Linked DNA regions of Homo sapiens: regions 2, 3, 4 and 5 are each reported to be linked to region 1. The links are microRNA targets in miRTarBase. Many come from high-throughput screens and were not tested one by one. Region 1 holds a microRNA gene; each other region holds the end of a gene's coding sequence.
Evidence for each region. Region 1 holds the annotated microRNA hsa-miR-7155-5p (UCUGGGGUCUUGGGCCAUC, at 1,331-1,349, shown strand). A microRNA usually pairs through its seed, bases 2 to 8, with sites in the 3' UTR of a target mRNA and lowers its output. Matches are read on the target gene's strand: a 7mer-m8 pairs with bases 2 to 8, a 7mer-A1 pairs with bases 2 to 7 and ends in A, and an 8mer does both.

Region 2: the mRNA of MYBL2 is a reported target of hsa-miR-7155-5p. Seed matches in the 3' UTR shown: 7mer-A1 at 837-843.
Region 3: the mRNA of MAN2B2 is a reported target of hsa-miR-7155-5p. Seed matches in the 3' UTR shown: 7mer-A1 at 1,003-1,009.
Region 4: miRTarBase lists ADAMTS14 as a target of hsa-miR-7155-5p. Seed matches in the 3' UTR shown: 7mer-A1 at 4,300-4,306, 7mer-m8 at 3,991-3,997 and 7mer-m8 at 3,703-3,709.
Region 5: the mRNA of TRIM71 is a reported target of hsa-miR-7155-5p. Seed matches in the 3' UTR shown: 7mer-A1 at 2,098-2,104.

What each region holds. Positions count from the first base shown.
Region 1 is chr11:64,338,135-64,343,234 of GRCh38, reverse strand. MIR7155 (microRNA 7155) reads left to right here and starts at 1,331; the gene lies at 1,331-1,386. CCDC88B (coiled-coil domain containing 88B) reads right to left here and starts at 3,031. Exons shown (of 27, transcript NM_032251.6): 1 at 2,909-3,031; 2 at 2,483-2,628; 3 at 2,217-2,328; 4 at 2,057-2,126; 5 at 1,907-1,965; 6 at 1,731-1,814; 7 at 1,493-1,636; 8 at 1,096-1,241; 9 at 860-941; 10 at 555-713; 11 at 1-56. The coding sequence starts at 2,968. LOC102723878 (a long non-coding RNA gene) reads left to right here and starts at 2,443. Exons shown (of 4, transcript NR_188518.1): 1 at 2,443-2,694; 2 at 3,157-3,335. RefSeq lists silencers at 184-478, 2,343-2,392, 2,413-2,492.
Region 2 is chr20:43,715,373-43,720,472 of GRCh38, forward strand. MYBL2 (MYB proto-oncogene like 2) reads left to right here. Exons shown (of 14, transcript NM_002466.4): 14 at 587-1,110. The coding sequence ends at 715. Among named protein-coding and RNA genes, the nearest start is that of GTSF1L, 9.1 kb to the right of the region's middle. RefSeq lists a silencer at 5,043-5,100.
Region 3 is chr4:6,620,801-6,625,900 of GRCh38, forward strand. MAN2B2 (mannosidase alpha class 2B member 2) reads left to right here. Exons shown (of 19, transcript NM_015274.3): 19 at 388-2,562. The coding sequence ends at 485. Among named protein-coding and RNA genes, the nearest start is that of MRFAP1, 17 kb to the right of the region's middle. RefSeq lists a silencer at 1,650-1,843.
Region 4 is chr10:70,760,480-70,765,579 of GRCh38, reverse strand. ADAMTS14 (ADAM metallopeptidase with thrombospondin type 1 motif 14) reads right to left here. Exons shown (of 22, transcript NM_080722.4): 22 at 3,139-5,100. The coding sequence ends at 4,727. Among named protein-coding and RNA genes, the nearest start is that of TBATA, 22 kb to the left of the region's middle. RefSeq lists an enhancer at 3,025-3,794.
Region 5 is chr3:32,891,301-32,896,400 of GRCh38, reverse strand. TRIM71 (tripartite motif containing 71) reads right to left here. Exons shown (of 4, transcript NM_001039111.3): 4 at 1-5,100. The coding sequence ends at 4,590. Among named protein-coding and RNA genes, the nearest start is that of CCR4, 58 kb to the left of the region's middle.

The sequences.
Region 1 (5,100 bases):
TGCTCTTCCAGCAGCGCCTTGGACGCCTCCAGCACCCCCGAGAGCACCCGCTCCTCCTGGTGGGAGAGCAGGGAGAACCGGTAGCCACGCAGCCCCCATGCACTCCAGCGCCTGAGGGTCCCAAACTCCTTCCCCTCAGCCTGTCACAGACCCTGCCTCCCTCCCCCACCCTGCACCCCATCAGTCTCTAGGCCCCGCCACTCCCTTCCATCTTCTTCCCACCAAGATCTCTTCAGGTACTTTCTCCCTCGCCCCTGGCCCCGCCCTTTGTGCAGGCCCCGCCCTTCTGTCCATGCCCCGCCCCTCCCCCCCGGGAACAGCCCTCCTTCCAAGGCTGCATCACTTACACAGCCCCCCCACTCCCCTACACCTGCCCCATCCTCTGGAGGCCCTTTCCCAGACGCCACCTCCCTGAATTTGTCCTCACCCATTTCTCCACCTGTGACTGTCCCCTCCAGAGAACCTGCCTCTCTGCCCTCGGGACCCAATCTCGCCCCTCCTCCTGGCCCGCCCCCTCGCGCACGCCCCGCCCCGCGGCTCCGTCTCCGCCTCACCTCCAGCTGACTCTTGTAGGCCTCAGCCGCCTGCAGCCGCTCGCGGCAGCGCCTCAGCTCCTCCTGCAGGCGGGGCAGGCGGCCGGCCCGCTCCCGCAGCGCCTCTGCCTCCTCGCGGTACAGCTCGGCCCGCTTGGCCTGTCCCGACAGCGCCTGGGCCTGGGCCAGACGGTGTGGAGCTGGGAACAGCCAGCCGCGGGCCAGAGGGATTAGGGACGGGAAGGAGCCGGGTTGGGAGGGAGGCAATGGGACCGGGTGCGGGGAGGTTAGGGAATGCCGCGGTGGCGGGGAGCATGTGAGCGCACCTCCTGGCGGAGCCTTCTTATTTCGGCCTCCAAACCCTGCACCTCGGCCTGGGAGTCTAGCAGCAGCTCGGCCTTCTCCTCCCTGGAGGGAAGGGGAGTCTAGGGAGGGTCTGGGGGCCCACAACCCCCAGCCCTTCCCAGGCCTGACCCCTCCCGTAGCCACCAGGGCTAGGGTCCCATCCAGGCTTAATCTGCCCCTCTCCACTCAGTCCCCTTCCCAGGCTGCGCACACTCACAGCTCCTGCCGCAGACGCCGCAGCTGAGCCTTGGCGTTGGCCAGCTGCAGGGCCAGATGGTGCGAGGGGCCCTCGGCGGGAGCCCTAGAGGGAGCCTCAGGCCTCAAGCAGAGGGGTTCTCGCTCCAGCAGCAGTTCAGCCAGCCGCTGTAGGTCAGGGGTCAAGGGTCAGGACTAACTTATCCAATGCCTCTGCACATCGACCCCCAACCACAACACCAGACATGGGGTTGTGGTCTGGGGTCTTGGGCCATCTGGTTGTGACATCACTGATGGCCCAAGACCTCAGACCACAACCCCATGCCTGGGCCCCAAACTTCCATCTCCCTTGCACAACCGGCTCCCTGATGGTCCTCCAGTTCCCCAACCTGAGTCCACGATGCCCCTGCTGCCCCTACCTGGGCCCCCAGGTCACGCTCCCGTGCCAGCTTCGACAGTGTCCCCATCAGGCTCCGGGACAGCATCTCCAGCTCGGCAGGTGCCAGCTCCCCAGGATCTGGCCCAGACAGTGCCAGCACCACGCCGGCCCCCGGCTGGGTCACCTGGGGCGCAGGAAGAGCAGTTCAGTGGAAGCCGCGGTGTGGCAAGGGCGTCCCAGGTGCCATACCAGTCTGGGCTGCCGAACCGTCTCAGTACCTCCTGGATGGCAGCGGCCAGCTCGCTCTGGACCTCGAGACTGAGGCCCTGGATGTGGCGGATGAAGAGTTCCCGGTGCTCACACTGAGGGGAGACAGGAAGGGGAGCTGGTGCAGGATCTCCCTCCTCTACCGCCAAAGCTCGACCCTAACCTTTCCTTCCCACCGCCGGCTCACCTGTACTGACGCTCCCAACAGTAGCCGAAGAACGCCTTCCAGCTGCTCCACCGCTTCTTCTGCAAGGCACATGCCACAAGGGGTTAACTGGGGCGGGGAAGGTAGAGTAGTGCGGGGGCAGAGGCAGGAGGGTGTGGGTGGGGAGAGCACCTGAGAGAGGGTCAAATCCCAATGTCTGGAGGTCTGGGGGTGGCGACAGGATCAGCAGCTGCAGCTCCTCCTGGAGGCAGAGAGGCAGACTATATGAGGCGCCTTCCCGAAGGGGCTCCTCTTCCCCTCCTGTCTCCGCCTTTCCCTCGAGACCCCTTACCTGGTAGAAGTCCCTCAGTCGGCCCCACAGGTGGTTCAGGTTCCACACTCGCCAGGCAGCAGGTCCGTCAAGGCCTCTGAGCATCCGAGGTCCCCCTCGGGAGCTGGGGGCACTATGAGCCGGAGGTGGGCTCGAGGACCCGCCTCCCGTCAACAGGCCTCGCCCACCGTCCCTCAGGCCCCGCCCACTGAGCATCAGGCTCCGCCCACCCGCTTCCCCTCCTCTCAGATCCTTCCCCGCCACCGCCCCGGCCCGATGCCCCTTACATGATGCCCAGCACCCGGAGGAGCAGGGCCCCATCGCTGAGGCGCAGGAATCTCTTCTCCAACCAAAGGGGCGGCTCTTCCTCCTCTTCCTCTTCTTCCCCCTCCGAGTCCTCCGCCTCCCCGACCAGCCCGGCCAGTCCCAGCGCCTGTGAGGAGCCCAGAGGGGTCAGCCGACCAGCAGAGTGAACCCTGAGCCCCTCCGACCTGCCCCAGTGAGCCCAAGCACCCCTTCTCACCCGTCCTCTGAGTGCCTCTGTCCCCTCTTCCCTCACCACAGCCCCCCACACCATATCTCCATCCCCCACATTTGAACCCAGCCCTCCCCTCCGGCCTGGTTCTGCCTCACCCTCCCCCGGCCAGCGCCAACACCAGCCCCTGGCTGGGGCTCACTTCCCCTCCCCAACCCGCTGCCACCTGCCCCCTCACCCAGGTAGCCAGACTCCCACTCAGGAAGTCTCTGAGCCTGGGCCCCTTGCCCCCCTCCATGCCCGGGTCGGGGTGCCCGTCTCACTGTGGCAGCTGCACCTGCCCTGAGAGGAAGAGGAAGTCCCCGAGTGGGGGATCCCGGGGCCAGCCACAGACACCCTGTGCAGCTTCCTCCTTCCGGGTGCAGGCGGGCCTGGGCAGTCTGAGTCCTACCTCAGCCCCCACCTCACCTCCCTGCATCCTCCTAGCATCTCTGCAGGGCTAGCCCAGAGGTTGGCGGCGGAAGGCCCACAGCTCCCCTGGCTCCATGGGCAATGACCGAACAGCCCTTCACCTCTCTGGGCCTTGTTTTCTCAAACTGAAACTGGAGAGGATGACCCCAGCCTGGGACCTTCGAGGGCCTCAAAAGGGCTCTGGGCCTTGCGTGGTGAGTTTGGTCACCCACACACCCATCTTCCCAAATGCCAGGCTTCACTCACTACAGCGTTCTTTCTTTTCCCTTCAGTATTTCTCAAAGTTACCCAAACCACATCCCCTGGGAAGCCTGGTTCAGATGCTCCTCCAAGAAGCCTCCCTTGAACCCCAGATAGAAGGGAGCATCATTCCTGTGACCTCACCCCACCCCATCCTCTATACACTCGAGACTGTTGTAGCCATACTAGGTGCTATGAAGGGGAGGGGATTTGACCTCGGCAGGATGATCAGGGAAGGCATCCTGGAGTACGCATGAGATCAGGGATGGCTGGGTTAACAGGGCAAAGTGGAAAGGAAGGGAGGGTATTCCAGGCAGCAGGAACAGAATGTGCAACTGCTCTGAGGCAGCTGGAAGCATGGTCAGCAAAAAGATTGGAAATTATGCATGTTTTATCTATTCCAAGATGCTTAATGTTCACGTTTCACTTTTTGTTTTGTTTTGTTTTTAAGAGACAGAGTCTGAATCTGTGACCTAGTCTGGAGTGCAGTTGCAAGATCACAACTCGCTGCAACTTCAACCTCCTGGGCTTAAGCAATTCTCCTACTTCAGCCTTCTGAGTAACTGGGACTACGGGTGTGTGCCACCACACCTGGCTAATTATTTTGCTTGTTTTTTGTACAGACAGAGTCTTGCTGTGTTGCCCGGGCTGGTCTCGAACTCCTGGGCTCAAGTGATCCTCCCGCCTTGGCCTCCTGAAGGGCTGAGATGACGGCATGAGCTGCCTCACGCAGCCCCCATTCTACACCTCTGAAGTGAGTTTACATGGTACAGTTGCTGTCTGGCTAGCTGCCGTCCCAACATCACTGTCAGGACCCACACCTGAAAAGCACCAGCATCAAATCCTTCAGAAGAGTGTCAGCAGCTTGGAAGAAATCCTAGAGGCAAGCAGAACCCTTTTTAGCCCTGGGACTCAAATGGTGGGAAACCCCAGGGGAAGGGAACCAGGCTTGTCAGTGACACTCCCTTTTTTTTTTTTTTTTTTTTTTTGGTGAGACGGAGTCTCGCTGTGTCTGTCGCCTAGGCTGGAGTGTAATGGTGCAATTTCGGGTCACTGCAACCTCCGTCTCCCGGGTTCAAGCAATTCTCCTGCCTCAGCCACCTGAGTAGCTGGGATTATAGGCACCTGCCACCACGCCCAGATGCTTTTTTGTGTTTTTAGTAGAGACAGGGTTTCACCATGTTGGCCAGGCTGGTCTCGAACTCCTGACCTCAGGCAATCCACCCACCTCGGCCTCTGAAAGTGCTGGGATTACAGGTGTGAGCCACCACGCCCGGCCTGTCAGTGACACTCCTAGAGCAGAGTGAAAACTCGGCTCCACTTCATCTGCACAATTGTAAAGCTGGCTTAAGAGCGCCTGGCTGTTTTATGGAATGTTTGGAGCAGTACTGCTCTCCGTAGAACTCTCAAGGACTCAGAGAAGGAGGTGGCAGGCAGACACAGACATCACGACTCTCAGACCAAAAATGATTCAAACAAGTTGGACTCTAAATGTGAAGGAGTTTTCTGAACATGGTAACCAATTTATTTTGCTTCTATTATCCTTTTTATGTGTGCATGAGAATTATATATGATAAGAATCTACATTTAAGTGAAACAGAGCTCTTTCGAGAAATACAAAAGAAAAATTCTAGTGATGAAAGAACCTTGGGACATCGTTAACTGGCAGCATTCTCTTTTCTTAGTGACATTTTTATAATCGATGACATCTTAGTTTTT
Region 2 (5,100 bases), not on the chromosome of region 1:
GCCCGCCTTCTTAGCTCAGGGCCTTTGCATAGGCTGTTCCTCTGCCTGGGTGCTTTTCCTGCTACTTCCCGTGGCTGCATTTGCTTAACTTACTCTTCTGATTTCAGTCTCAATGCTGCTTCCTTAGGGGTAAGCCTTCTCTGACCCTACATTCTGTAGAGATACCCCCATTCTGCCATTCTCTCTTTTGTGGCCTGGGTTTCACTTGTAACTAAGTCATTATCCCTGTATTTGGTTTGCTTAGTACATGTCTGTCCTCAAGCAGGGGCTGGCTTCAGGCTGCTGACCCGTCTCACTGCTCCTTCTCACCCGCCTCCTGGCTGTGGCTTCTCCTCGAGGCTGGTGCTGCACGGGGCGGGCAGTGCATGGCCATGTCTCCTTGTCCAGCGTCCTACTTACAGTTGAGGAAGCCCACAGCCAGGAAGTGACTTGTCCAGGGTCACAGGGAATGTGGAGAGAGAATAAGAAGGCTCTGGCTTCTAGGGGAGGGAGGCTTATAACTCTACCCTTCCCTGGCCAGGATCACCAGGGTCTGTTGGGAACACATAGTCCCTGCCTGGATGGTAACCCTCTTGCCTCCTCCCAGATGTCCAGTGCCTGGAAGACGGTGGCCTGCGGGGGGACCAGGGACCAGCTTTTCATGCAGGAGAAAGCCCGGCAGCTCCTGGGCCGCCTGAAGCCCAGCCACACATCTCGGACCCTCATCTTGTCCTGAGGTGTTGAGGGTGTCACGAGCCCATTCTCATGTTTACAGGGGTTGTGGGGGCAGAGGGGGTCTGTGAATCTGAGAGTCATTCAGGTGACCTCCTGCAGGGAGCCTTCTGCCACCAGCCCCTCCCCAGACTCTCAGGTGGAGGCAACAGGGCCATGTGCTGCCCTGTTGCCGAGCCCAGCTGTGGGCGGCTCCTGGTGCTAACAACAAAGTTCCACTTCCAGGTCTGCCTGGTTCCCTCCCCAAGGCCACAGGGAGCTCCGTCAGCTTCTCCCAAGCCCACGTCAGGCCTGGCCTCATCTCAGACCCTGCTTAGGATGGGGGATGTGGCCAGGGGTGCTCCTGTGCTCACCCTCTCTTGGTGCATTTTTTTGGAAGAATAAAATTGCCTCTCTCTTTGTGCTGGTCTGGACTCTGCCTCTCTACTGGGCCCTGCTCATGGTTCCCTGGTGACCTAGGGGCCTCTTCTGGGATATAGGGACCTGAATGCTCATCCTCAGAGGCCAGCCTTATCGGCACAGCCCAGGCCTGAGCCCTTGACCCTGTTTCCACAGAGGGGCACAATGAGATGAGAGCAATTTCTCTCGTCTCTGCACCCAGTGGGCATCTCTGCAAAGCTCTGAGTATTAATAGCCATGGGGTTGGGCGGGGGTGGGCAGAGACTGGGGGCGGAGGAGGACGATGGGTTGGTGCAGTAGGGCCTTGCCTGGCCCTTGCCTTGGGTGGCTCACCTGCCCATTAACAAGCCCCTGCCTCAAGCTGAGCGTGGCCCCCAGGTCAGACCAGTAAGCAAGGAAGAGGGGTGAAGGCAGCTGGGCAGAACCCTCTAGCCCCATTGGCCAAGGCTGAGCAGGAGGCCAGGATGGGCCAGAGCCTCTGCCCTTGTGGCCCTAAATCCCTAGGGTTGTGGCTACAGAGCACAGTGCTTGGCAGGTGGTTGGGAAGAGTCACTGGGGATTGAAGAGGGGAAGATGCCAAGTCTGAGAATGTCTAAATGAGGAATTGATGTTTTCAGCAGCAGGCTTCATGGGACAGGCACATGAACATCCCTGTGGGCAGAGGTTGAGCAGACTTGGGGCAGGTCCTCACCTGGGGCAAGAGATGCGGCCAACTCTAGAGGGATGGGGACTGAGTTAATTAGGGTGCCAGAGTTCAGATGTGTCTGGCCTCAGACACACCCCTTTCTCCCTGCTGAGCTCCCGCCTACAGTCCCCCTACTCCTGTCCATTCACATGCAGGCATGCCGTGCTTGGTCCTGGCAGTGTCCCAGTTCTTGATCTAAAGCCGAGGAGGGGCGGGGGCTCTGTGCTTCCCACCCTGCACCCCGCACCCCGCAGCCCATGTGGCTGGGCTGCATGCACCTGCAGGTTCCATGGATGAACCACACCTAACTCACGCCCTGAGCTTTTGTGATTTGTCAGCATGGAGCCTATCCCCTCCCCAACTTCTTCCCCAAGGTCTGTCACTGGCCGCTCCCTACAGTCCTTGGTCACCCAAGGTGGATGACCTGTGCCCCACGGTGAGGATGGAGGCTGCATTACCTTGTCTCCTATAGCTCACACCAAGACTCGGTGGAACAACTTTGTCAAACTCAAATGCAGTGCGCTGCAGGCTAATGATGAAAATTCCTGGGCCCTCTGAGTCAGGTACCTGGGGTGGAGCCTGCAAAAAGGGATTTTTAACAAACCACCAGTGGGTTATTCACATGCAGGGCGTTGACTGGCTACACTCTGAGCTGACGCCTGTGAGGCTCCAGGGGCTTGTACCCCATGCCCTCTCTTGCCTGAGGTCTTGCTCATTCCCAGGGACTGCCCTCAGGCCCTTTCCTGTCCTGGAGGGAGGAGGCTGTAAAGAACAGAGTGGCTGCAGGTAACAGCAAGCTTAACATACCATCCTCACTGAGCTCTGTGTGCTGTGGGCTTGTTCTTTGGTTCATGCATTAAATAAATACTAGGCCGGGTATGGTGGCTCACGCCTGTAATCCCAACACTTTGGGAGGCCGAGGAGGCCAAATTGCTTGAGTCTAGGAGTTTGAGATAAGCTTGGGCAGCATCATGAAACCCTCTGTCTACTAAAAAAAAAATAGAAAAAATTAGCTGGGCATGGTGGCATGTGCCTTTAGTCCCAGCTCCTCGAGAGGCTGAGGTGGGAGAATCACCTGAGCCCAGGAGGTCGAGGCTGCAGTGAGCTGAGATCATTCCACTGCACTCCAGCCTGGGCAACCAGAGGGAGACACTGTCTCAAAAACAAAAACAAAACCACATTTATTGAGGGACCCTCCAACCCTACCCCCACATGTCTGGCATAGTTGTAGTGCTGAAGATATAGCAGTAAAGGATAGAAACCAGGCCAGGTGTGGTGGCTCATGCCTGTAATTTAGTACTTTAGGAGGCTGAGGTGGGAGGATCACTTGAGCCCAGGAGTTTGAGACCAGCCTGGGCAACATGGTGAAACCCCATCTCTACAAAAAATTTTAAAAACTTAGCATGATAGCATGATGGCTCATGCCTGTAGTCCCAGCTACTCAGGAAGCTGAGGTGGGAGGATCTCTTGAGCTGTGGTTGTGCCTCTCTACTCCGGCCTGAGTGACAAAGCAAGACCCTATCTCAAAAGACAAAAACCAAAAAACTACCTTATTCTCATGGAGCTTAAATTCTTTTTTTTTTTTTTTTTTTTGAGATGGAGTCTTGCTCTGTTGCCCAGGCTGGAGTGCAGTGGTGCGATCTTGGCTCATTGCATGCTTCGCTTCCTGGGTTCACACCATTCTCCTGCCTCAGCCTCCCGAGTAGCTGGGACTACAGGCACCCACCACCATGCCCGGCTAATTTTTTTTTTGCATTTTTAGTAGAGACAAGGTTTCACCGTGTTAGCCAGGATGGTCTCGATCTCCTGACCTTGTGATCCGCGTGCCTCAGCCTTCGAAAGTGCTGGAATTACAGGCGTGAGCCACTGCGCCCGGCCATGGAGCTTAAATTCTAAAAAGCAGACAGATATAAACCAACCAATTGATATAAAATGTGCCAGAGGGAACTTTGAAGTAAAGCAGGGGGTACCGTGAGGCCAGTCATCTGCTCAGAGAAAGTGGGGAGGAGTCAGATTTGACAGCTCCTGGCCATCATGGGGACAGGGAGAGCCCACATGGGAAGGCAGATTGGTTGCCACTCAGGAGGTGCTGGGGGCCCAGCTGCTGTTTGATCAGGAGTTTGGGGAACTTGGTCATGAGGATTGATCCAGGCCTGATGTTTCCCAGGCTAGTGTGGCAAGCAAGAAAGAGTTAGCCAGATAGCGCTGAGGGGCAGAGGGCCTGAGTTCAGGATGGTAGTACAGGAGTGGGGGTGCTGCGGTCAGCCTGGGAGAGGGACAGGCAGGAGGGAAAGATGAGGCTTAGTTAAGATGGCAGAGGGAGGCTGGGCGTGGTGGCTCATGTCTGTAATCCCAGCACTTTGGGAGGCCGAGGCAGGCAGATCATCTGAGGTCGGGAGTTTGAGACCAGCCTGACCAACATGGAAAAACTCCGTCTCTACTAAAAATACAAAATTAGCCGGGCATGGTGGCGCATGCCTGTAATCCCAGCTACTTTGGAGGCTGAGGCAGAAGAATCGCTTGAACCCAGGAGGCGGAGGTTGCGGTGAGCCAAGATCGCACCATTGCACTTACTCTAGCCTGGGCAACAAGAGCAAAACTATCTTGGAAAAAAAAAATGGCAGAGGGTGAATCTGCCATTCTGGCAAGATCCAGATGATTGTCTGGCATTTGGTGACCAGCATGGCCTGGAGGTGAGAGGCTCACAGATATAGAGGCTGTGGTAGATTGTTCCAGCAATGGCTCCCTAGGGATCACTGCTCCCTGTAGCTATTCCCATGAGTGGGTCATGTGGTTGACTTTGCCCCTGAGGGACTCTGGGAGAATCTGCTGAAGGAGGTGAGAATTCTAGCTGTTCTGGTTGAGACTCCAGACGTGAGTAAGGCCACCCTAAACCATCCAGCCTCACCTGATCTGGCCCAGACTGGAGGAACTGCCCATCTGATCACAAAGTCATGAGAATAATAAATCAGTATTGCTTTAAGCCCTAAGATTGAGGATGGTTTGTTACACAGCAGAAGCTGACTGATAGAGATGCTGGCATGAGGAACTGGGACATGTGAGTACTTAAGGTGGTCCAGGATAAAGATAAAATGTCCTTCTCAGAGCAAGGCAGGGACTGGGGCAGGAGCAGTTTTGATAGGCCAGGAGTAGTTTGGGAGTCTTAATTAGCCACTTTTTCAGCAGACCCTGGTGTATCACTGAGGAAAATCAACACTGAGCCATGGGCTCATCAGGGTTGGGGAGAAACAGGAGACCTAGGGTTCCAGGAACTTTGCGGGAAATGAATGGGGTGAAGGATTCTG
Region 3 (5,100 bases), not on the chromosome of region 1:
GAGCCTGGTGAGGCAAGGGCAGACTCACCAGATGGTCTCAGAAAGCTCTTGGGCTTTGAGGGCAACACCCATGAGGAATTGAGGCCACTAGGGCCAGGACCAACCTATGAATTGCCCTCAGGGTGGGCAGAAACGCCAAGAGGCCCACAGGAGTCCTGGCAGAAGGGGATGCCATAGGCCGTTGCCACGGTGGGAGCCACAGCAGACTGTAGCCAGGTGCAGTGTGGTGAGAAGGAGGCTGGGAGCCACAGCAGATTGTAGACAGGTGCAGGAGGGTGAGAGGGAGGCTGGGAGCCACAGCAGACTGTAGACAGGTGCAGGGGGTGAGAGGGAGGCTGGGAGGAGGCATCCCAGGCCACACTGGACAGATCACCTCTGTTCCCCTAGGTGACACCACCTCTCCCTCGAGGCCACCAGGAGGCCCCATCATCACCGTCCACCCAAAGGAAATCCGGACGTTCTTTATTCACTTTCAACAGCAGTGAGCCCTGGGCAGATGCCCCGGCCCCAGGGCTTCCCCCAGGAACTCCATGTAACAGAACAGACCCAGGACAGGGAAAAGCAGTGCGGAGGGATGGGACTGGGGAGTCAGCTGCTCATCTGCAGGCTAATGGCAGGAAATGGTCATATTTGGGGTTTTTCCCTAATTTTTTTAAACAAAAATTACATTACAAGATCCAGGTTCTTCCCCCCCACACTCAATCAAGCCAGCCCTCTCCTCTTCTGTCACGTAAAGGATATTTGGCACACTCATGCGTCATTCATTCACAAAACACAAACCCAGGACTTTCTGCCTAAGGCAGAGCACAAGACTCACAGCAGCACCGAAGCGCATCTGCCGTCCGGGCCCTGCCAGGCTTGCCAGGCTGCCAGTGGTAACTGTGGACCTACTGCGTGCCACGTGTTTTCATAGACTCATCCCATGCTGGCAACAGCCCTGCAAGGGGCTTGGCTCTGCCACAGGGCAGGAGAGGAAGTTGTAGCGCCTAGCGAGAGTTCCAGCCCCAGACGCCCACCTGTGCCTCAGGGCACCGCCTGCCGAGCAGAGAAGGCACAGCAGCCGTCAGAGTCCATGAGAGGTGAAACCACACAGCAGGGATGTCCAATATCAGAACTATTAATATCAATAAAAGTATAACCTTCCCAGGTCTATGCCCAAGAGAATTGAAAACATCCATCCACACAATACCTGTGCTCCCGCGTTCATAGCAGCATTACTCAAAAGTCAAACGGTAGCAACAACCCAAATGTCCATCCACAGATGAATTAAGACATGAAGTGTGTTCTGTCCATACAATGGAATATTATTTGGCCATAAAAAGGAAGGAAATTCTGACGCATGCCACAGCCTGAGTGAATCCTACAAATATTACGCTAAGTGAAAGAAGCCAATCACGAGTTTATGTGAAATGTCCAGAATAGGCAAATCTGTGTATCAGAGACAAAGCACATTGGTGGTTGCCAGGTACTGGAGGAAGAGAGAAGAGGCATGACAGCTAACAGGGACGGGCTTTCTTTGGAAGATGATGAAATTGTGGAATGATGGTTGCACAACTTTGTGAATATACTAGAAACCAATGAATTAAAAACTTTGGAAGATGAATTTTATGGTCTGTGAATTATATCTCAATTTTAAAACTTTTTTTTTTTTTTCCCGAGACAGAGTCTCACTCTGTCGCCCAGGCTGGAGTGCAGTGTCAAGATCTCAGCTCACTGCGACCTGCACCTCCTGGGTTCAAGCAATTCTCCAGCCTCTGCCTCCCGAGTAGCTGCTACTAGAGATGCACCACTGCGTCAGCTAATTTTTGTATTTTTAGTAGAGACGGGGATTCACCATGTTGGCCAGGCTGATCTGGAACTCCTGACCTCAGGTGATCTGCCTGCCCCGGCCTCCCAAAGTGCCAGGATTACAGGCGTGAGCCAATGTGCCCGGCCTAAACCGTTTTAAAGAGTAAACTGTAAGATGTAGGAAATTATTTGGTACTCTAGGGCTGAAGGAAAGTACCCAGAAAGGACCAGCTTGGAAGGAGTCAGACCTCTGGACAACGTGCAGTTTGGCCACCAGACAGCAAAGACAGTCTCTGGTTTGGCCAGGCAGGAGCTGGGCTGGAGTTGCTGACCAAGCAATAGGCCACCCCTGTGAGGTGGGGTCAGGTGAGCAGCCACCAGAGGCATGGATGTGCAGTGGGAGGTTGAGGCACAAGGAGTGAGGCAGGAGCCCTTTAGAGCATGTGGGCTGCATGAGGCTTGGTTTCTGTGTCAAGAAGACTATGGAGGCTGGGCAGTGGTTCATGCCTTAATCCCAGCACTTTGGGAGGCCAAAGCAACCGGATCACTGGTGGTCAGTAGTTCAAGACCAGGCTGGCCAACATGGTGAAACCCCATCTCTACTAAAAATACAAAGTTAACCGGGTGTGGTGGTGTGCGCCTGTAGTCCCAGCTACTCGGGAGGCTGAGGCAGGAGAATCAATCACTTGAACCTGGGAGGCGGAGGAGACCTCCGCCTCTGCACTCCAGCCTGGGTGACAAGAGTGAGACTCCGTCTCAAAAAAAAAAAAAAAAGGAAGACTACGGAGGCCAGGCGTGGTGGTTCATGCCTGAAATTCCAACACGCTGGGAGCCCTAGGCAGAAGGATCGCTTGAGCCCAGGTGTTCCAGACCAGCCTCGGCAATATAGTGAGACCCCATCTCTACAAAAACTATTCTTTAGACGAGCGTGGTGGTGTGCACCAGTGGTCCCAGCTACTCTGGGGGCTGAGGTGGGAGGCTCACTTGAGCCCAGGAGGTCGAGGCTTCAGTGAGCCATGATCATGCCACTAACTCCAACCGGGGTAATAGAGCAAGACCCTGTCTCAGAAAAAAATAAAGAAGACTATGGAAATGTTATCCCCAGCGCAGCCAGGCTGTAGAAAAATCATGTGCACTGAAAGTACCATCACCCATGCTGACCATCCCCGTCCAGAACAGAAACAGCAAGAGAGCCACTTCCCCCTGCGGTCCCTCCAGCACCCAGCACCCTCAACTGGGAAGAGTGAGAAGAATATAGATGACAGGGGAAAACCCACCCACAATAGACAGAATATTGGCTAAAATCTAACATCCATTTGTTGCTTTGTTGTTATTTCATTTCATTTTACTTTTTTAGACACAGGGTCTCGCTCTGTCACCCAGGTGGGAGTGCAGTGGCACTATCATAGCTCACTGGAACCTCTTAACTCCTGGGCTCAAGTAGTCCTCCCATCCCACCCTCCTGAGTAGCTGGGACTACAAGCATGAGTCACTACACCCAACTAATTTTTAAAATGTTTGTGGAGACGCAGTCTCACTATGTTGCCCAAGCTGGTCTTGAACTCCTGAGCTCAAGCGATCCTCCCACCTAGGCCTCCCAAAGTGCTGGGATTACAGGCTCAAGCCACTGTGAATGGCCTGTTTTTTGTTGTTGTTGTTTGTTTTTTTTTTTTTTTTTTTTTTTTTTTTACAAACCACCACCACCAAACTCCCAATAAACTACGTTGCTCACTGACAATCCCCAACAGGTTTATTGCGGAACTTGACAGGATGATTCTGAAGTGCACTGGGGCTAGGTACAGTGGTTCGTGCCTGTAATCCCAGCACTTTGGGAGGCCAAGGTGGGTGGATCACTAGAGGCCAGGAGTTCGAGACCAGGCTGGCCAACATAGTGAAACCCCCTCTCTAAAAAAATACAAAAATTAGCCAGGCTTAGTGGCAGACGACTGTAATCCCAGCACTTTGGGAGGCCGAGGCGGGCTGATCACCTAAGGTCAGGAGTTCGAGACCAGCCTGACCAACATGGAGAAACCCCGTCTCTACTAAACATACAAAATTAGCCGGGCATGGTGGTGGGCACCTGTAATCCCAGCTACCCGGGAGGCTGAGGCAGGAGAATCTCTTGAACCCAGAAGGCGGAGATTGCGGTGAGCCGAGATCGTGCCACTGCGCTCCAGCCTGGGCGACAAGAGCGAAACTCTGTCTCAAAAAAAAAAAAACACACACACACACACACACACAAGTGCACATCTTCGTCCGTTTGGGCTGCTGTCATAGAATCCCGTACACTTTGGGAGGCCAAGGTGGGCGGATCACAAGGTCAGGAGATCGAGACCACAGTGAAACCCCGTCTCTACTAAAAATACAAAAAATTAGCCGGGCGTGGTGGCGGGCGGCCTGTAGTCCCAGCTACTCGGGAGGCTGAGGCAGAAGAATGGCGGGAACCCGGGAGGCGGAGCTTGCAGTGAACCGAGATTGTGCCACTGCACTCCAGCCTGGGTGACAGAGCGAGACTCCGTCTCAAAAAAAAAAAAGAATACCATACACTGAGTGGCTTATCAACAACAGGAATTTATTTCTCCCAATTCTGGATGCTGGGAGTCCAAGGTGCCAGCAGATTCGGTGTCTGGGGAGGGGCTGTTTCCTGGTCTATAGATGGTGCCGTCTTGCTCCGTCCTCACATGGCAGAAGGGGCAAGGCAGCTCTCTGGGCTCGGTTTCTAGGAGGGTGCTAATATAACAGTACTGAGTCTACCTTAAAGAAAAATTGTGTTTGCTTGAGTATAATTACAGCTTTGCTTACGCTTACACACTATTCATTAAAAACAGCCTCAGGGAAAGAGGACCTTCAGCAGAGATAAGAGAGAAGTGCACTGACCAGCAATCCTGGAAGCGGCTAGCCGCAGGTTTCCACCCACCAGATGAGAATAGTTGGGCTGAGGTCGAGGCAGGAGGATCACGTAAGTCCAAAAGTTTGAGACCAGCCTGGGCAAAATAGGGAGACCCCGTCTCTATAAATAGTAACAAAATTTAAGTAGGTGTGGCACACGCCTGTAGTCCCAGCTACTCAGGAGGCTGAGGTGGAAGGATCCCCTGAGCCAGTGAAGTCAAGGCTGCAATGAGCCATGCCTGGGCAACAGAGTGAGACTGTCCAAAAAAAAAGCAAAACTAAGACTAATCTGGCTGGCCTGGTGCAGCCAGCACTTTGGGAGGCTGAGGGGGAGAGATCATTTGAGCCCAGGAGTTGGAGACCAGCCTGGGCAACTTGGTAAAACCCAATCTCTAAAAAAAATTTTAAAATTAGCCAGGTGTG
Region 4 (5,100 bases), not on the chromosome of region 1:
AAGTTCCACAGATTTCTAGAGCAGGGGCACAATACTCCCTGTCTCTTTGCTAAAGCATAGCAAGAGTGACTTTTACTACAGTTCTCAATAAATTTCTCATCTCCAACTGAGACCTCCTCAGCCTGGAATTCACTGTCCATATCACTATCAGCATTTTGTTCACAACATTCAACAAATCTCTAGGAAGTTCCAAACATTCTCACCTCTTCCAGTCTTCTTCTGATCCCTTCAATCTGTTCCAGCCTCTTCCTGTTACCTACTTCCAAAGTCGCTTCCACATTTTCAGTTATCTTTATAGCAATGCCTCATTTCTCTGGTACCAATTTTCTGTATTAGTCCATTCTCACATTGCTACAAAGAACTACCTGAGACTGGGTAATTCATAAATAAAAGAGGTTTAGTTGGCTCATGGTTCCACAGGCTGTACAGGAAGTTTATGGTACTGGGGGATTTGGTTAAATAAATGGTCATCTAGCCATACCGTGGGGTACTGTGCAGTCATTAAAAATGAAGACGTGGCTGGGCACGGTGGCTCATGCCTATAATCCCAGCACTTTGGGAGGCTGAGGCAGGCAGATCACCTGAGGTTGGGAGTTCAAGACCAGCCTAACCAACATGGAGAAACCCCATCTTTACTAAAAATCCAAAATTAGCCAGGAGTGGCGGTGCATGCCTGTAATCCCAGCTACTCGGGAGGCTGAGGCAGGAGAATCACTTGAACCTGGGAGGCAGAGGTTGCAGTGAGCCGAGATCGCACCATTGCACTCCAGCCTGGGCAACAAGAACGAAACTCTGTCAAAAAAAAAAAAATACGTAGTTCAACGTAGCTCAGGATGGAAACGTGTTCTTATTGTATTGCTGTAGGTGGAGTAGGAGGGGGAGAAGATCCCAGATGACGTGTATGTGTATAGTATTAATAATACTCACCCAGCGTGCATGTGTGTGTGTACAGACACAAACAATCTTGCACATGCACACATCTGGAATGGATAACTAAATTATTAACAGTGGTTATTGCTAAGTAGAATTATAGATTTTTTTTCCTCAGGTTGTAAAATTTTTCAATAATGAGCATATATTTCTTGCATAATTTTTTAAAGGAGAAGATTTGTGGTGTAGGCCCCAGAGATTTCTAATCTGTGGCAGCTGGGTCCCTGGGACTGCCCCAGCTACATTTCCACCCCTTCTTGCTCTTTCCCTCCTCCCCCCAGACCCCTACCTTCCCCCAAGCCTTCAGTCTCCTGAAGCCAGGTAGGGAGCAGGGGCTCTTTGGAAGAGCCCACAGAGTTCCAGGTCAGATGGCCCAGGCTCTGTGCCTTCCCCTCTTCCCCTGCCTGCTGTGTCATTTCAGGTGGAAGGCCTGGAGTTTCACCAGGAGGGTAAATCAAAAAAGGGCCCAGAGGCCAGTCTATTGCCCAGGAACATGATGAGGCTCCAATTGCCCCTTTTCTCCTCTGGAGGAATGGGAAGGTAAGTCTCCTGCTGTCCCTAAACCCTTGCCATCCCCCCGATCCCTTCTCCACCAGGAGCTTTCAGGCCTTACTAGCCCAAATGAAGTCACAGGCTGGAACCTCAAGGAGGCCATCTGGACACAGAAGACAGCCATGGTGAGGACTTCCCAGGCTCTTTGAACAGGAGGCTAAGGGTGACTCTGTGCAGCACTGTCCCTACTGACCCCAAGGGCAAGGAGATGCTGGAACTTCAGGGGGCTTCCTCCAAAATGACAGGTGTGCTGGCCCCTGGCTATGGGTTGAGGAAGCTTGGCAGACCAGGGCAAAGGCTCTGGAAGCCAGTCGGGGCTGATAGGCTAGACTCTGGGCACCTGGCTGTCACTGCGGCAGGGCTCTGCCAAGCATGGGGCAGGTGTGGATAAAGCCTTGAAGTCAGAGTGGCCTGGAGAATCCCCTCCAGGGAAGAGACAGGCAATCTGGCACCCTGGCACCTGCACCCACCAGACTCCAAACAGGAAACCGTTTAGGGCAGGAAGAGGTGAGACCATTCCCATATGGCCTTTCCCACTGGGCTCCTACAGGAAGTGAGGGATGTTTCTGAGGCTGCGATGGAAAGAGGGCCCTTGGTGCTGTTCCTCTATCTTCACCCGTGAATCCTTTCATTTTCTCAGTTTCCACCAAAACAAGCAAAAATCCTGACCCATAAAAAGCCCTCAATTTGGAGAGTGGACATTTCCAGATGTTTGGGGAGATGGCAACAGAAATTTAATTGAACCTTAGACATATTAGACAACCTGCATCCTAAAAAGCCCCCAGCCAAAGACAGATGGAGAGGCTGCCCTCTCTGTGTTCCCACCCCCACGGGGGTAGGAGTCTCCAAACCATTTTCTCCTCGGCCTTAAGGGGAGGAGTGAGCTCTGCACAATGACAAGAAGCCCTTTTGCCAGCTTCACCTTTTCTAAGTGCCCAGCAGTGTAGATTCTTTTACTCCATGACACAAATTCTGCCACTGCTTAGAAGGCAAAAGTGGTTGCAGTCATTTTGCTTTCAGTGACAGTCTCTTTGTTCTGTGGTTGCTAAGATTCCTTTAGAGAGCCCCTCTTGTTGTTCTTTTTTGTTTTTGAGACAGGGTCATGCTCTGTCACCCAGGCTGGAGTGCCATGGCGCAATCACAGCTCAGTGTGGCCTCAAACTCCTGGGCTCAAGGGATCCTCTCACTTCCACCTCCTAAATAGCTGAGACCACAGGCGTGCAACACCACGCCTGGCTAATGTTCTTTTTATTTTTTGTTGAGACGGGATCTTGCTATGTTGCTCAGGCTGGTCTGGAACTCCCACCTCCAAAAGTGCTGGGATTACAGGCATGAGCCACTCTGCCCCACTGGCCTCTAGTTGCATTTAAACAGGTTGAGAATTTCACAATAACCTGAAATAAAGTGTTGTCCTGGAACTTGGGCCTCAGGGAAACAGGAGATTCAGTAGCCAAGAAACCAGTGGCAACCCTGTGTCCCACCTGGCAGTGACGCAGCAGGGCATGGGTGGAAAGGTGGAGGGACAGGAGACAGCCACAGTGAGCTGCGCCCCCACCCCCAGTTCTCTTGCTACAGCCCAGCCCTCAACCTTCGAGCTCTGGCTTCATTGTCCCCTTCCCATAAATCAGAGAGAGAAAAAGAAACACACACACAACCTTTTGGGGTCCAATGGCGATGTTAATAAATACATAAAATTTTAAAGATCTGGATTTCCAAGGCACAAGAGTTTAACACAGGCCAGGCTGGTTCTCACAGGAATGACTCCGCGTGTGCCCCAGCATCCCAGGGAGGGGAGGGCAACAGGGGGAGGGCGGGGAGCCCCCCAGGACCTCCACTCTCCAAAGGGGTTGCAGGCCAGGGGCCCACTACTCATGTTCCTCCAGGCTGGCTCAGAACAGCCCCTTTGCCTTGGGGAAGGAAGAAGTGAGAAGCACCTCTATCACCTGGCAGGAGTTTAGGAGACATCCTCCAAGACCCCGGAGGTGTCCTGGGACCCCCTGCCACTTCCTGAGAGCCAGAGGATCTAAGACTGTTACCTGTCCCTTGGAGGTAGCATGGCCGGCAGCTGAGCACAGCTCAGGCCCTTACAGCACCGTGGGTGAGTGTGTCTTCCCCACTCCAGCACCAGGCCAGGGGCTGGCACCCTGCCCTGGGGCACTTGGCCTGGGTGGCCCTTGTCATCTCCAGGGCCAGGCTATGAGTGGACTCTGGTCCTCAGTCCTGGGGTCCAACCACCCCTGGGAGAACCACACACTCTGGCCCAGCTTGAGCCAGGTAGAAGATGAAGATGTCCGACTCCAGCAGGAGCGATCTTCGGAGAAGGGCAATGATTGAAGGGACAGCCTGAGAAATCGTGTTCCCTCTGTGTCCCACAGAGTCCCCTTCCAGGCTGAGAGTGATAATTGAAGTTGCCATCCTGGTGGAGTCAGGGAGTGAGCGCCAGTTTGGAAATCCCTGGATGCTGAGGACTTGGGGTCCAGGGTGTCCTGAGCCCCCTTCTCTGGTGGGCTGGGGTGAGATTGGGGGGCCAGTCTGTAATCTGGAGTCACTAGAAGTAACACTAGTGACATCTGCAAGGCCAGAGTATGGCCATGAGCACCATCTTCTGGCCAGCAAAGACAAACTGGCCTCTGCTGCCTGGCCTCAGCTGGTGGAACTGCATGGAGCTCTTGGCTTCCAGGAGCTGGGCCTGCGATCACCTTGTGTTCCACCCCCTCCAGCCCTGCAGCTGGGAAGCCTCATGCCACATTCCCAGGCCCCCCTCCTCTCGGCCTGGCTGTGAACAGTCCCCCACCTACCCTGGCCCTGCTTTGCCTTTCTGGGGAGAGGGGCCAAATATGCAGGGCCTCCACAGGGGTCCTCACAGTTCCGGGAAGGCAGGCAGCCCTGACAGCTTCTAGCTACAGACCAGCCGGGATTCAGACCTGCCCAGGCCCAGGGTCTGTGAGGAGGGAGCAATAGTTGACCCTGGTCTTGGCAGGGGAGACCAACAGGGGCCCTGAGAGGGTCAGTCCCGCCGGGGGCAGCTTGCTGAGGTATCTCCGATTAGGGCTTTCCCTGATCTTTGTCTTCCTCCCACCCCGCTTTGTGGGGTAAAGAGCATCACAGCCCCAAACGAGAAGAAGGCGAATGATTTAAAATGAAGTCTGTGCTTGCGCCTGCCCTGCTATGTGTGTCCTCTGAGCTGGGAGTCACGGGGCAGTACACAGAGTGTAAACGTGCCAGTGGGATGGCAGGGCACAGCTCATGTCACCGGGGAGGCAGCAGGGAGGCTGGTGCCGGGATGTCTCAGGTCTTCTCCAGGTTGCCCTTTGTCCTCAGGGACTGGCGTAGGTGTCTGAGTCCAGCCCCAAGGCAGCCCCCCGGGGGTGGTAGGGGAGATGCTCCAGGATGCTCCAGGGATTGGTGTCTCAGGGGCAAAGGGATGCTGGGTCCCTGGGGAGCTTGTATCCAGAGCTCCTGGGAGCTGTGTGGCTCGGCCATGCTGATGGTCCTCTGATCCCGTTGGCTTTCCAGGAGGCTCTGCAGCATCTGCAGGGTCCTGGGGTCCTGGTAAGGGGCTTCCAGGAGTGGAGAAGGGGGGCAGTGAGGTTGGGCCAGGGTCTGGGCCAGGGTTGG
Region 5 (5,100 bases), not on the chromosome of region 1:
ACAAAAGAGCAATACACACTTCAACAGTCACTGCTCAGTCAAAACAGTGATTGTTGCAACATCATGGTGATGAACGTCCTGCCGGGTCCAGAGAGCTACAAATACAATCATGAAGTCAAGAGGATTCTCATTCCCTTCAAATATTTGATGTTTCCAAGATCTAGACCTTTAGAATTGCTCCTAAAGGGTATTATTTGCAGACATTCGAAATACAGATAAAATATTTTTCTCTTGAAGAGAAAGAGACCTAAAGGTCTTTATTTGTAGTTAAGTCCTCCAATAGGTCAGATTAACCAGTAGTTTCATAATACTGAACAACAGTAATGGTATGCATAATTCTTTTTGAGGGGGAAAAGCCAGATTGCTAAGAACTACTTGGATTTATGACTACATTTGCCTGACATTTCTCTTTCAAGGTAAGTAGAACATTTCTCCTGGGAGAAATCAGTTGTAGATTTATGGTAACATTTCTTTTAGAGGTAGCTTCCCACTCCCACCCACTGCCCACTGGATTAATACTATTCTTTTTGAGACCTGTCAGATGCTAACATGAGGTAGATGACTTGCCACAAGTGAGGTAGAAACTCAGCAAAAGCAGTCAGTGTGGTCTGGAATGCTGCGTCCTGTGCCCTTGGCCCTATAGAAAACCAGAGAAAGCCGTAGAGCTCTGGAGGCCCTGGCCCTGTGACACCATCACCTGCAAGTACAAGAGTGTGACTTTTATACAGCCCCAGACTGTTGGAAACTCATTCAGAGTGATGTTTTAAATATACCTTAAACATACCCTAAATACTTTTTGGCACCACTGGATTAAAAAAATAAGATCAGAAAAACAAGCCTAAAACTTTGGCATATCTTTCACCACCTACCAGAACAGAGCAATCGTAGAATCTTCCAACGAGGAAGGTAACACATATATAAACAGTATTTTGCTGCTTCAAGCCTAAAAGACTTTCCTCCTCAAATAATTAAGCTTTGGCTTAACTAGAATAAATCAGACTGAGCCGATCTCAAGCTATCTCTTGCAACTCCATCACAAAGTGCCTCAGTTCTGGCAACATTTTTGGCCCAACACGTAATTTGGATTCGGTTTATGGTACCCTTTGTTATGTGTTTCCCAAATAAGTTAGACTTAAAAGGGCATTGAGGAGTTAGTGCACTTGGGGTACAACCCAGGTCACTGTGCTCTAGTCAACTTGAGTGCCACTTGCAGCCACAACAGGGCACATGTTCTGAGACAGCATTAGATCTTGGGACCAAAAATAACACTTTTGAAATGTTAAGTCAGTGTCAAGCAAAAGTAGTTTTTACCTATGGGTTAGATGTCCTTTAAACATCTCAATACTCAAACCTATATATCCAAACCCAATGGGCATCTCCACACATAAACTGAGCTTACATCATACCCCACCCAACCCTTGCCACCTGACCAGATCAGACCTCCATGGGGACTAGTAATTGTCATACTTACTCCCCAGAAACCTTTTTATTCTCCTACCTCATAATACCCAGGACCTTATTTTTTCCATCAGGATGACGACTCCCTTCTTTGACCCAACTCCTGGCTACCTGGCATTACCCGGGCAGGAGATTATGCATTTAAACACAGGTACTTTTCACAGTTTCACACTAGGGACTGCCAAATGTTGGCTTTTATCATCTTTCTTTGATTTAGAACATTTCACATCATACAATAAACACTCTCCAAAGTGCTTCGCACCAATCCCTATGGGTCAGGAGTCAACCACGGGCAGGAAAAACCGCCAATGTTTTAAAAACAAAAGCTTTCCAAATGTGACCATGTTTCTCAAATACCAGTCATGCACCATTTTGGGTACAGAAAGGTAAGGAGATAGATATACCACCACTGAGGACAAAGAGGTAGTATCTCTGACCTACACACCTATTTCAGGGGATAGTTCTAGTTGCTCTAAGCCTGCAAATTTACAAGTCTGTAAATTAAGACCTGATAATTTCAGCCATGGAGCGAAAATCTTGGCTTTTCGATCACATCCATAGTAAAATGTCAAATAAGGAGCTCTAGTTACTGTTATGCACCAAGAACATTTCTCATTCAGGTCCCAAAATTTTCCTACATCTGGGGAAATTAGAAAGAAAAGAGCAGAATGAAAATGATGATGAAAAGATTTTAATCAAGATCCATCTCCTCAATAAAATTTTTTTCAAGCATTTAAAACCAGTTGTCTTTGGTGTTTAAAGGGTGGCTTGTTGGGCAGCTGGGGAAAGGGAAGGAAGATCAGCACCAAGTTACTCCAAAATAGAAAACAGTAAAAATGTTTAATTATATTAACTCTTTACCAAAGAACTTAGAGCTTAACGGCCAAAAGGCAACTGAATAGGCATTGGGGAAGGATTCACTATTAAATTCTACAGTAAAAGGAGCTTCTAACAAACAACATTTCCTAACACCTTCCCACCCTGTAACAGCAGCTGGGAGCCAGCAGCAGTTTGAAGCTACTTTCCAACTTTTGAATCTTTTATTGCATGCAGTTCTCCTCTGTGAGATGAGGTTTTTTTTTTCCTTCCCATTTTGGTCACTCAGAAACCCTAGAATTAAAGCAATGGGAAGAGACAGAGTAGCTTGTAGTAGTAGTAAATTAAACGTCCAAAAGAGGTGTACGGGAAAAGCAACTTGATTGACTTGTCACACTGTCCCCATCATCTCCTTTTCTATTGGGATAACAGAAACAAATTGCTCCATTTGTTAATCTGTTCTGCTCATTTAAAACGATACCCATTTTGCAATAGAAATTTCTCTTAAACAGAGGAACAGAAGTTGATCCATAAGTCTTTAAACAAGAGGTCTCCCTTGTAAGTCACTGACGTTTGTTTGAGAGTCCCTCTTTTCCCTGAGGAGGGCTCCTCCAGAATTTGGTTCTTATTTCAGTATTTGGGGCATTGCAGGAACCCACTGGGTTCTGACAAGCAGGGTATCAGCTACATCTGCTTTGCACTTGAAAGACAGACAATGCCCAGAAGCACAAGTTTTGTACCCAAGTCCAGCTTACAACCAACCAATCCTGTAAAGTGACACAGATTCTACCCCACAGTTCTGCAGTGGGAGCCTTAAATTTTCATTCTTTGGTACCGAGTTACAGGTTTAAGAAAAGACATTACATCCTACATTTCAGGTTGGGACAATTTGGTTTCTAGATCCTTTATGGTCAAAGGCCTTGGGGGGAGAGGGGGCGGGGGGATTCATGTTAACCATGAGGTCCTAAAGCATGGCCTGGGTGCAAACAATCCTATAAAAAGTGACCCAAGCAGAGGGTGTGGGACTGGGCTGTTGGTATTAATTTGACTTTCAAACCTTCTATTTCCCTGAACTTTCAAAGCAGGAAAAAATTGTGCTTGTAAAATAAAAGTTCTTTCCTTTGCCTACTCTTCTTAGGAAAAGAAACCCCTAGCACTACAGAACAACATGCACTCGCGGGTCAGGGCAGACCCTGCCCTTTCTGTGGAGTTCCTATAGTTTGGGGGTGCCTTGTTCTTTAATGTGCTCCCTGACTCCCTCAGCACACGCATGTCCACCCACATTCATGTCCACGTCAGCCCATGCCTGAAAACCCTCTCTCTGAGAACGAGGTTAATTTCCTTTTTCCTTCCATTTAACCCTTTATAACCTAACAGCAAAATAAGAAAGCATAACTTTTGAGAATATGTTTAATCAAAAATCCTGAGCTACCATCTATATACTTTTTTAAGAAACCAAAGTGTGAAAAGGAGAGGTTCTTTGGGAGGCAGTGTGTCATTTTCAGCTTTACTACTTGGGTGCAAGATGGCTTTGAAACAAACATGCACACACCCTCCCTTAAAAGAAACAAAGATTATATACCCTAAAATATGAAGGGTCTGCTTTTCTTGGCTAGCAAGCCACAGCCACAACGTCTAAGATCAAGAAACGATGCAGAAGAGGATGTTAAACACACTGAGGTATAAACAGAGAACAGAGGAAATTTCTCTGTTGCAGCATTTAAAAAGAGAAGATTTTCCAAAAAGATCAAAACAACACAACATAATCTAAACCCCATATAAACAGTATTCTCAAGAACACAGGTATTCTATAATTATGCATTTCAAATCCTATTTTTTCCATGTTTTATAGTTTTTTGTTTTTTTACTTAGTAGTTTTTTTTTGTGTTTCCTTGGCTCAATCTACAGAATACACCCCACCACACACATCCAGTGCCCTCCCAGCCATACAGATGCCAGGCTTGTGCATATCATGCCCCACGCAGGGGAAGAGGGAAATGCAAACTCCACTGAGGAGGGGAAGAGGGCCTGTTGCAGAAGGAAATGTAAAGATTTATGAGGTAGATAGAAATTATCACTTCACAGGCTCAATCCCTGCAGAAAAGATAAGTACATTCATCTGTAAAAAAATAAAGATGAGGTAGGACTTAAGCAATGTTGTACTTTTCTTGTTCTCTTTAAAAAAAAAAAAGAAAAAAGAAATTTCCCTGAGACTGTTTCTTCTTTGAAATTCAAAAAGAGAGAGAAAGAGAAAGAGAGAGAGAGAGAGAGAGACACGCACACACACCCCAAACACAGAAACCTAGGAAATGCAATTAGAAGACGAGGATTCGATTGTTGCCAAAGTCCACCACAACGATCATTCCGTCGGGGGTGATGGCGATGCCGGAAGGGCGGTCCATCTGCCCAAAGCCGCTGCCTTGAGCACCAAACTTGCACAGGAAGCTGCCGTTGGATTCAAACATCTGTACCCGATGGTTCCTGGAATCCGCCACAATGATGCGCCCTTCCTGGTCCACAGCTACCCCTTGTGGGCGCAGGAACTGCCCATTGCCTGTGCCCTCCGAGCCCAGAAAGCGTGCCGACTGGCAGTCGGGGTGAATAACCAGGAGCCGGTGGTTGTTGAAGTCAGTGACCACCAAGTGGCCCTCATGGTTGAAGGCCACACCCCGTGGGGAGTCAAAGTGCTTCCAGAGAGCCCCCTCGAAGCCATACTTGTTTAGGAAGACACCATCAGGCCCAAACAGCTGGATCCGGTGGTTCCTCGTGTCTGAGACCAGGATCTTGCCCTCAGAATTCACCGCCACATCCCAAGGGTAGTTGAAC